Linked DNA regions of Homo sapiens: region 1 is linked to region 2. A link means that fine-mapping ties the variant in region 2 to the expression of a gene that starts in the linked region. Tissue or cell type: nasal epithelium. Region 2 holds a variant in brackets; the other region holds the start of a gene. All regions are shown on one strand. Distances are from middle to middle.

Region 1 (5,369 bases), 28 kb after region 2:
GTGGCTGGGTGTGGGAGAAGCCTGGAGGAGGGTGACAGCAGCAGTTGGATTCCCATCCACCTTCCTGTGCTTACTACTAGCTGGTAAGTACAAGAAGCCAGCGAACCTCTTGCAGTTTCAGTTCCCTCATCTGTAAAATGGAGGTATCAGTGTCGTCAAGCCAAAGGCTGCCAGGAACCTGCCTGTAATTGAATGAGTTGGGATTATCACTCATTGCAGCGAGAGGGATGCAGATCATGGAGAACTGCAAGGCATCTCAGTAAGAGGTGTCGGGAAAAGTTACTAAAGGTTATGGGCTTGAGTTGGGTGATTTTTTTCATGGATTAGATGCTGTCAGGAATTGGGGGAGTGGATGGGGGGAAAGGGTGGTTCTCTGGGCATCTCAGTAGATGTTATCTGTGAGGAGGCCAGGGCAGAGGGAGGCTCAGCTGTAGCTGGTAGAGGAGCGGGGGTCATTGTTACTAACTTGGAGATGATATGTCTTAGATTTTGTGGGTGGCACAGTTACCCTGTTTTTGTTTGTGCTTAGACAAAATTATGACGTGGCCTTGGATCATGATGGTGCTCCTCTACAAAATTATTTATGTCCAACAGGAGACCCCATGGCCTCGATCTGAGTGCCAGGCCAGCTCCTGATGTCACGGTCCACTTTTCTTCTTGGAGGTCATACTAGTACCTATTTCATGGAAATAACCCATGTAGAGTGCTCAGTATATACCCTGTGAAGGGTTATGAATGCTGATGGTAGTGGAAGCTGATGTGGAGGGGAATGGTGGAGACACCTTGGAAAACCAAGCAAGAGTCTGAAGTTGTGGCAGGCCGGGTCTCACTAACGCAGGCCTCCATTACAGCTGTCCCAGCACGGACTGAGTAGCCAGGTTAAACATTAAAAGCTGATTGAGCCAATGCCCTTATACAAAGGTTGGAATGTAACAAAGAGCCCACCAAGAGTTTTGCCTAGGCTCTTCCTGGGCCTTGAAGCATGACAAGATAACGAAGGAACTCTTAACAGGACCCTTTTTAGGATTAAACAAGTTGTATTAGGGATCTGAAGAAACTCCCCAGGCCTCCACAAACAAGTTTATGGGGGTCTAAAGGAATTCCCCATATCATTATGATTTAGCAGGAGACAAGATAAGGGTAATCACCCCAGCACCTAGACCCATTTAGATTAAGTAAACTTACTGAGGCTCCAGAAGAGGGTCTTCAGGACTCAACCTTAGTCATAGATTAAAAGAAGTTAATCACTTATGTCTGTAGATGAATGCACACTTACATGTAGACATACAGCTTAGAAGGTATACGAGCTTTGGAAAACTTTGTAATTTTGAGTTGGTATGGTGATAATTTCCAGGCCTTCTCCTTGTAACCGGTTACAGAAATAAAACCTCTCTTACTCTCCAGCTCATTTGCATCTTGTTATTGGGCCAGGAGAAGTAGTAGCCCGACCCTCAGTTGGGTCCAGGAACAAAGGGAGTGTCTGAAGACAGCAGTGATGTGATCACCTGTTTTAGGAGGACCACTCGCCAGAGCCCAGGGGAATGGTGGGAGGGGTGGGGAGAGGTGAGGGGAGCTGGGACAGGGCAAGGAGGGATGTATGGAGGACGTGTCCCCTGGCAGTAGGAAGAGAGTCAAGGATGACTCCAGGGCTTCTGTAATTTGAAACAGTCACAAATAACCACAAGCTCTCAGGTGGAAGGACACTGAGAGCCCCATGAAGGTCATGAGGTGGTGGGCCACCTCAGGTCCGTGGATCCAGGACCATGGATCAACAAGAGAAGTGAGGTCTCCCTGGGACCACATAACGTGGTGAAGGCACCGGCCTTTGGTTTTCAAACTCTGCTCCTAAGTGGAGCTCCAGGGTCTGGGGAGGAATGCCGAGTTAGGAGGGAGGCGGGAACCGGAGACCCAGGCCCACTCGTCCGCCCCAGCGACGCTGGCACTTGCACATATGAGGCGGCTTGCATGGCTGTGCTTGAAGAAAGGGTTCTGCAGCTACAGCCTATCTGCAAAGCCCCACGCGAAGTTTGGGCAATGGGCTGTGTGAACCCAGAAAATGGGAGACAGGTCTCAGTTAATTTACAAAGTTTATTTTGCCAAGGGTGAGGACGCGCCCGTGACACAGCCTCAGGAAGTCCTGACATGTGCCCAAGGTGGTCGGGGCACAGCTTGGTTTTATACATTTAGGGAGACAGGATACATCCATCGATACATGTAAGAAGCACATCGGTTCGGTCTGGAAAGACGGGACAACTTGAAGCAAAGGCAGGAAGACTCCAAGCGGGGAGGGAGCGTCCAGGCCACAGATAGGTGAGACACCAACGGTTAAATTCTTTTGAGTTTCTCATTTGCCTTTTCAAAGGAGGCAAATCAGATATGTATCTATCTAAGTGAGCAGAGGAGTGACTTTGAATGGAATGGGAAGCAGGCCTGCCCTAAGCAGTTTCCTGCTGGAGTTTTCCTTAGTGATCTTGGGGGCCCAGGATATCTTCCTTTCACAGCTGATTTCACAAAGCCGGCTGGGTAGGAGGGCCCCAGGGCCGGGTGGCCGTCCGCGTGGCAGGGCGGGGGTCCCAGGGCGGCTGTGCTTGGTGCTGGGAGGCCGCCCGAGGGCAGCGCCGGCCCCGAGTCAGCAGCCGCAGGGCACCCTGGAGATGCGGAACGCCCCCAGCCGTGGGTCAGCAAAGGCGTCTCAGGTGACCCTTAGGGAGGGCTTCTGAGGCAGCCCGTGCGGGGTCCGTCCTGGCTGAGCACTGCGCGGACGGCGCGCCCGCGAGACTCGGACCCGGCCTAGGGCTCAGCGAGCTCTCAGCGGGGCGGGCGGACGCAGGCAGCCCAGGGGAGTGGGGCCCGCCCTGCGCCGCCATCACCCCTTTAAGTGCCAGGCCCGCGGCGCATGCGCAGTCAGGCCGTTGTGCGCAGGCGCAGAGGCGGCGGCGGCGGCGGCGGCGGCGGATGTTTACGGCGGCCGAGGTTGGAGCGGCGCTGCTCGGCCGCGGACACACGAGGGACGCGCCCGAGGAGCTGCAGGTGGCAGCCCAGGCGGTCCGAACCCGTCGGCCGGCCGAGCCTGGAGGTAGAGCCGCCGCCGCCGCCGCCGCCCCTCGGTCCGGCCTGCGGCGAGCGGGTGGTGTGTCCCCTCGGCCCCTTCCCTCCTCCTTCCCCACCCCCGGCACCCCTGCGCCCGGAGCTCTCCTCTGGGGGCGTCGCTCCTCCCCACCTCGGGCACCCTCACCTCCCCCCAGCGGCCTCCAGGGCGTCCCGCGTTTCTCTCTCCGAGCGCTCGCGGTTTCCCGTCGGTCTCTCCCGGTGCCCGTTGCTCACTCACACTCTTGGGTCTGGTTAGTCCAGACCTGCAGCTTGTCTTTGACTTCCCAAGTGGGAAACGTTTGCAGTTCCAAGGCAAGCCAAGAGCTAAGGTTTAGAACAAAGTCTGCCTTGGACCCTTTCAGAAGATGACAGGATTTTTTAAAAAAATAATTGCGCCCCCCCGCCCCGTGCCTTGGAGATAGTAAGAATTGGAGCAGAGCACTGGGACTTCAATTCACGCATGGAAAGAGATCTTTGTTAGTTGGAGGAAGGAGAACTTGCCTGAGCTTCGGGCCTTTGTTTTGTTTTTGTGAGAGGGACGTGTCTCCTAAATGAATGTTTGCTCCAGCGTTGCACCTCAAATAAGTCACCTAAATATCCACGCCCTCTTTATCCACCCCCTCTTTACTCGTGTGACTAGAATAGTTTTCATTTTTCTTCTCAAGGGAATGGCTAAACAGCTCCTATCTGGGCGTTTGATAGACTGTCATTCAAGAATGAGTGAAGTTGAGGTGCCTATAAGCAACTCAGAAATTGTTGTGGCCACGCTTGGGGGAAATAGAGCCCTACACTCAGGTGATGAGAGGAGACCTCAGAGGTGACCGATCCAGGGCCTTGCTCCCTGCGCCACCCCAGCTCGTACCTCCAGTGGAACTTGGCTGGGCTTATCAAGAGCTCCTTTCATTCATTGCAACTTCATTTGTTAGAAAGCTTCTCTGTGTATTTAGTAGGCATTGTCTCCAACATGTACCACTGGTCTGGCTTTTGTTAGGCCCATTAATAGTGTACATGTGACAGCCTTTCAAGTATAGGTGCTCCCCGGCTTACGGTGGGGTCGCATCCCAGTAAACACATCGTTAAACCTGAAGTCGAACCATCCGAAGTCGGAGACCATCTGTATTTGAAAAAAGTCCCTTTGCATTGCTTGTAAGAGTTCTGGTTTTCAAGGTGAGAAATCTGTTTGTGTGTTTGTTTGATCATTCTGCCCAAAGGAGATGTGGCTTTGGGTCCTTTTCCCCACTCATCTTCCACAATGAATTACTTTGTCCATATTACCCTAAAGAAGTGACATCCAAGTTGGAATGTGATCTTCCGTATGTCGCCTCCCAAAACCCCACTACCATAGCTTCATGCTTGTGTTGACACAGCCACAATCACAACTCAGGTGTCAGTTCTGAGACCTTCCCATGCCTGTCGCCACTCAGCAAGTGTTCTTCATGTGCCCTGGCAGTTCGCATTGTAAGGAGCAGCCAGGTTGTTATGGACTGTTGCTAGTTACCACAGAGTAGTGAATTATATTAAGGATTAATTACAGCAGACAATGTGCACAGTATCATCGAGTGCAGCGTTCTAAAAATGATTCTACACTTTTACTTTGAAAAATTGGATTTGACCAGATTGTAGAATCTGGGTGAAAATGATAGGATTTGGTTTGGCGAAGAGCTTTGTTGTCGGTGTTTTTGGTGACATCATGACTGATCATATCGATGGTTTTCAGTGCGAGGGAGTGTTAGATTACCAGACAAAGATGGTAATAAATATCAGACCCCACAGCTATTCACATGGATCCTACCAGTGGCAATAGGTATAGATAGGGTTACCCCATCGTCAAAAGGTTACCGGTGTGTTGTGTGGTAAAGAACGTTGCTGTCTTGAGTATTTTTAAAAGCTGCACTGGTGTGGTATTAAAAACACAGGCCTTTTGCCATACAGTCCTGGGTTTGAATGCAGCCCCCTCCTCACAAACTGGCTATGTGATCATGAACAAATTAACCGGCCAGCTCCAATTTGCTTCTTAATGTTGTGAAGTGTAAATGAGGCCATGACTGGCAGGTGGTACCTGGAAAAAGGTGCTTGTTTTTACTAAAAAGCTGTCTGAACTTTCAAATTAAGGCAGAGTTCAAAATAAGTGATAGTTACTTAGTGGAAAATGAAACCTATCCAACATACAGTTTGAGGTTACCTTCTAGAGATGTGGCATTGAGACAATGTTGGAACATTATATACAGGCTTCTGGGTGAAGAGGTGGCTTTGACTGAGGACGGTATGCGATTTTCCAG
Region 2 (5,369 bases):
CGTGTCCTGGTGTACCAACCTCCTTGCTCTCTGCCACCTCCTGTGTGAGGCGGCATCGGGCACTGGCCCCTCCTGATCAGCCTCGTGGCAGCCATGGGTGACGGTGGCCTTGGGACAAACGAGGTTCCTTTCATGACTTCCCTGTCCGCACCTGGCTGCAGCGACAGTCAGATGATGTGTGTTCTGTGTTTTAAGTGAATCCCAAGGGCGTTCACTCTTCCCTCCCATGTGTCTGATGTGGTCAAGGGCTGTGAGGACATGGCCGCCTCGGGCCACTCAGCTCATCTTGTGTTGGGAGTTGAGCTGCAACCACACACACCTGCCAGGGCATGACAGGCTTTGTGCAGGGTGAAGAATGCCTGTCCACAGCACGGGGATGGGGCTTAGAGAGGTGAGACCTGGTGTGTATTGCCAAGGTAGAGGGTGCCCCTCAGACACGGTGTTCCCTTCTGCCCAGATGGGGCACTCAGAAGCAGGTGGTGGGAGGGGTGGATGTGGCTCCAGATTCCTGCAGCTGACCCTGGGGGTCCACAGAGCCATGAGGGGCATGCAGAGGGGACACCTGCTCCTCTGACTATGTGAGTACTTTCCTCTCTGGGACACAACTCTTGAGAAAAGCCATTGAATCGGGCCTTAGTGAGGACTGCAGGATGGCCCCCCCTGTGTGTTAGGTACTGCCGGCCCCTTGGGAGTTATACCCCCACCTGAGACTCACTCACAGATGCCATCGGGAAGTATCTCCTCTGCTGTTGATGCCACTCACAGTCCAATGCTGTGCTTATCCCCGTTGAGGCCTAGAGCTGCTGTGGGTCTGTCACTCTGGCCACCTGAGTGGCCACTTGCCCACCGCACTGAACCTGAGCTCTACCTGATGCTTTGCTGCCACTGAGACAAGGAGCTGGAGCCCCAAGTGGCCACTTGAACAGCTGCCAACCCAGGAAGGAGAGGCAGGCCATCTTCAGTTCTCTTGGCTGGCCAGCAAGGTATCCAATGTGTGGCCCACAGGGCAAGGATGAAGGAATGTGAGGCTCCCCAGGAGGGCACCCCAAAAAAACTCCTAGGGGCCGAAGAGAAGGTTGCAAGAGGTGGGGCCAGCCCTGCTGTGCCGCCACAGCCCTTTGGGTGCCAGGCTGTGCCCGGCTTCATCTTCCTCCAAGCGAGGAGATGTCCTGTCCCAGTGGCCGGATGTCACATGTGCTGGTGGAAGACTCCGGTGAGGAAGGGCCAGCAGCATGGAAAGTGAGACGTCCTCCCTGGGGTCTGAGCACCACTGCAAAGTGCCTTTGAGCAGCAGGTGATCTGGACACAAGCACTGAACTCTTGCCTGGCTCCTGCAGGGTCAGGGGTCAGGAGGGGTGAGGCACAGAGAGCAGGCCTGACGGGGGATGGATCTACCCGCAGAATCAGGTCACCTCCTCCCACTCTCTAACATCAGCAGGAACTCACATATTTTTTCCTCAGTGGACATTCGGAAGAAAATAACATCCGTGCTTGTAATATTAAAGTGGAATTTTGTACCACCTTATGTGATACATTCGTCAAATAGTTTTGGGTGTGTAAAGTTGGACTTTTGTGTTTCTCCTCCTTACTCTCTGCTGTAAGCCACTGGCTGTGTGAACTCTGCAGTCATGCTATACAACAGCCAGGCCTGGCATGGCCAGCGCCATCTGCTCTGCAGCAGGTGTGCAAAAAGGCCTCTGTTCATTTACCAGCCCATGGTGGCCACGCTTTGTGAGGGCAAGCTCCCAGCCCATCCAAGAAGATGAACTGGTCTTAGGCTGTGCTTCAAGTTATGGCTCAGATATGCTCTGAATGCCTTTAGTCCAGACCGGACCCTACAGAAGTCCAAGCTGGGAGCCCTTCGTGTCCTTGGCTGCAGTGGACCCTGTAGGCCTGTCCCAGTGCCCAGGTTTGGTGTCTGGGTGTAAACCGATGCTGGAGCAGCAGTTGGCTGCTCTCCTCTCAGACTTCCTGGTCTCCCTCGGGGAGACGGGGGAGCAAAGCACTGAACCCCTGAGATGATCGCATCAGACCCCTGTTGCTGGCAGTCGGCAGCCGGGGTGAACATCGGCGATGCTCCTCTGCGGACAAGGGAATGTGGGTGGGCGCACTCAAGGGCTGAGCCCAGAAGGCTTTCCTCTGGGGGTCCCAGGGCTCTGGGCCGGGGCTAAACGCCTTCACGGGCTCCCGTTCCAGTTCTGCTTCCCTCTGCAGGTGCCCCACGCCCGGCTGTGACGGCTCTGGCCACATCACAGGGAACTACGCTTCACACCGGAGGTGAGCCTGCCACACCCTCAGGTCCTGGGCCCCAGGGGTGGGCAGGGAGTCTCTTCCTTATATGAAGATTAGAAGACACTAATGTTGCTGACAGCTAGAGTCCATTCCCATCTCTTTAATCTGAATTGTTGCCATTTCCAGAACCTGATTAAGTTGTCCTCTGCAGTAAGATAAAAAGACAAGGGGTCAGGGCTAGGGGCTCGTGGTAATGCTTCTCCTTCCCGACCCTGCTGCCTCGTGTGAAGGCTGTGTCTGTGGATTCTGCTTCTTACAACTGACCCATCGGTTGCCCTCACTCCCTCCCACCCCACCCTGGGGTCACAGAGCTTGAGGGGAGAGGGTGAGATGAACGGGTGTGAGAAGCTGCGGTTCCAGCACTAAGGTGGCCTTTTTTCCTCTTTCGAAATCAGCTTGTCCGGCTGCCCTCGTGCAAAGAAAAGTGGAGTCAAGGTGGCACCCACCAAGGACGACAAGGAGGACCCCGAGCTGATGAAGTACGTTGGGCCATGCTGGCTCTTTCATTGCATTGCGGAATTGAGATTTTCGTGTGTTTTATAATGTAAAAAAACTCCTACTAGATTCCCTTTTCATTAATACAACGGGTCACCTAACTGACCAACGCCAACTTTCGTTTCTTTCATTTTTATGGAAGCTCTCATACGCTACACGTTGATACCTGTGAAGATAGGAGCCCTGGATGTCGCGTGGAGGGCATGGGTGCCAGATTTTCTGGGCTTTTCAGGTCTGGAGTATTTGACGGGGCTGGGAGAGGCAGAGCACCCTTCTACCTATGTCTTAGGGCCACCTGGGAGTGGGCCCCAGGGCCTTGCAACCTGCAGAATTTGTCTGGCAGGAAAGGTGAGATGCAGGAGTCAAGGAGGAGAAGGTGGTTAGAACA[A/G]TGTTGAAGCTCCAAATCCCATGTGTCCATCCACCCACACACCTGTGCAGAGAGCTGGTAGATTGAGAGAGCCAGGAGGATCTAAACTGGGAGCCAGACACTGTTGGGTGAAGGAAAGAGGACATCTTGGGCCTTAAGTGACCCAAGTCCTTGAGGAGAAAAGATTCTCCTCTATTGCTCTTCTCACTGGGGCAGGGTGGGGGCTCGTGTGTCTTTGTGGGGCTTATAGGTGAACCCTGACTCTGTGTGTTATCCTACTTGGTGGGGGTTTGTGTCCTTACAAGCTTATTCTCCCAATAGGGAACGGGTCCCCTGCACTGCCCACTTTTAGGTGGGGGGAATGCTTTGCTACAGACTCAGACCAGGTGACCCACTGGCCATTTTGCCCAGGACCGAGGTACTTTCAGAGCTGACATCTGGCAAAATGGGCAGTGGGTTCCCCAGCAGGTGAGCAGAGTGGAAATGATGGCTCTGGACACCTTGTTGCCCAGGGTTAGGGGCCGGCTCGGTCGGGACGGGGCCCTACTATGCCCGCAGGAAGCAGGTTGCCCTCGTTGTGTTACCTGCTGGGCCAAGAGCAGCCAGACCTCACGCCCGGGGAGGGGCAACTTGGCCTGAGATTGGGTTGCTCCTCCTGGTAGTTTGCTCCAGCTGTGCCCAAACACCCGGCCACACTGGAGGAGCCTAATTGACCAACATCACATCCTTCAGACGGGGATGGGCCCACCAGCTGTTTGGTGTAATAGGCTGTGGCTTGTTTATTTATTTAATTTTTACAATAAAACTGTAATGAATGCTAAATTAACAATGCAAAATTTTGGTTGTTAGTACTATGAAGGTCGCACACTAAATGCTGAGGTGGATAAAAAGCATTTTGCCCCTGAGAATCCAGGAATTTGCCTATGATCATATAAGTGCAACACCTTTATGGATTTGGCAAGGATCCTGCTGGCAGGGATATTATAAGTGAATCGTGCTGCATTTGCAAATGATTAAAATCAAGATCAGCATTTTTCAAATTAACCAGGAAAAATGGTTTTCCTTTCTAATGTGCTGTCAACTGAGCTTTAAAAAAAAACAAGAGTTCTGCAGCCGAGTGGAGACTGTGACTTTCAGAAACACTTCAGCATTTGCAGGATAGAGGAAGGTCCTAGAGGCTCCATGGCAGAGGGAACCTGACTACTGAACCCTCCGTTTTACAGGGTTCCTTCCCAGCCATAAACTTTAACTGCACTTGTAATTGCCTAGCATATTTAAACAGATGCATATCAAAGCAGAAACTGGAATGGATGTGTCAGGTCATGCTGAGGGATGGGATTTCGTCAGCATGCATGAGCTGTGATTTGGGGAGCCTGGTGGAACAGGAGTCCTTTTTATGATATCTCCTGCCTGCGCTATTTAAAATTAAGTCACATCAGGCGCTTGGTGGTAAATCCCTTTGCCACAGCTTTATAACTGGTCATAAAAGTCTTGCGGAGGTTCCAGCATGGGAGTCAAGAGGTGAATGCTCCCCTTGCCCTGCCCACTGTCCCTGGAGGGGACTTCTGGTCCTGGCCATGTTTCTCATGTCACTGGCACACACGGCTTCTGCCCCCCAACACGTGATAGGAAACACTAGCTCACCCAAGAAGCACAGAGGCCTCACCAGCTCAGTGCCTGCCCCCACCGCCCCAGCACCTCTCAACATGATGTCCCTGACAGCTTGAAAGTCTCCACACCAGGTTTTGTGAGAAAGAGAACATACCTGAAATCTGAAATCCTCTCCATGTATGCGATTCAAGGGAACAAAAACAGTTTCCCTTGATGAAGGGGAGTAGTGTTTTGCAAGAAAGGGAGTGAAAATAACTCAGATTTGGGCCGGGCACTGTGGCTCATGCCTGTAATCCCAGCACTTTAGGAGGCTGAGGCGGGTGGATCACCTGAGGTCAGGAGTTCGAGACCAGCCCGGCCAACATGGTGAAACCTCATCTCTACTAAAAATACAAAAATCAGCCGGGCGTGGTGGCGGGCGCCTGTAATCCCAGCTACTCGGGAGGCTGAGGCAGGAGAATCGCTTGAAGCCGGGAGGCGGAGGTTGCAGTGAGCCAAGATTGTGCCACTGCACTCCGGCCTGGGCAACAAGAGCGAGACTCCATCTCAAAAATACTACTACTACTACTAATAATAATTCAGATTCGACTGTGTAGAGTAGCTG

The links. PIP is the estimated chance that this variant, and not a neighbour inherited with it, causes the effect.
Region 1: PCMTD2 starts here. The variant in region 2 is fine-mapped to the expression of PCMTD2 in nasal epithelium (TOPMed, PIP 0.96).

Annotation. Positions count from the first base shown.
Region 1 is chr20:64,252,795-64,258,163 of GRCh38, forward strand. PCMTD2 (protein-L-isoaspartate (D-aspartate) O-methyltransferase domain containing 2) reads left to right here and starts at 2,954. Exons shown (of 6, transcript NM_018257.3): 1 at 2,954-3,076.
Region 2 is chr20:64,225,201-64,230,569 of GRCh38, forward strand. It overlaps MYT1 (myelin transcription factor 1), which reads left to right. Exons shown (of 23, transcript NM_004535.3): 17 at 2,215-2,277; 18 at 2,688-2,771. Among named protein-coding and RNA genes, the nearest start is that of PCMTD2, 28 kb to the right of the region's middle. RefSeq lists an enhancer at 1,140-1,639. The variant A/G (reference allele first, on the strand shown) is at 3,176.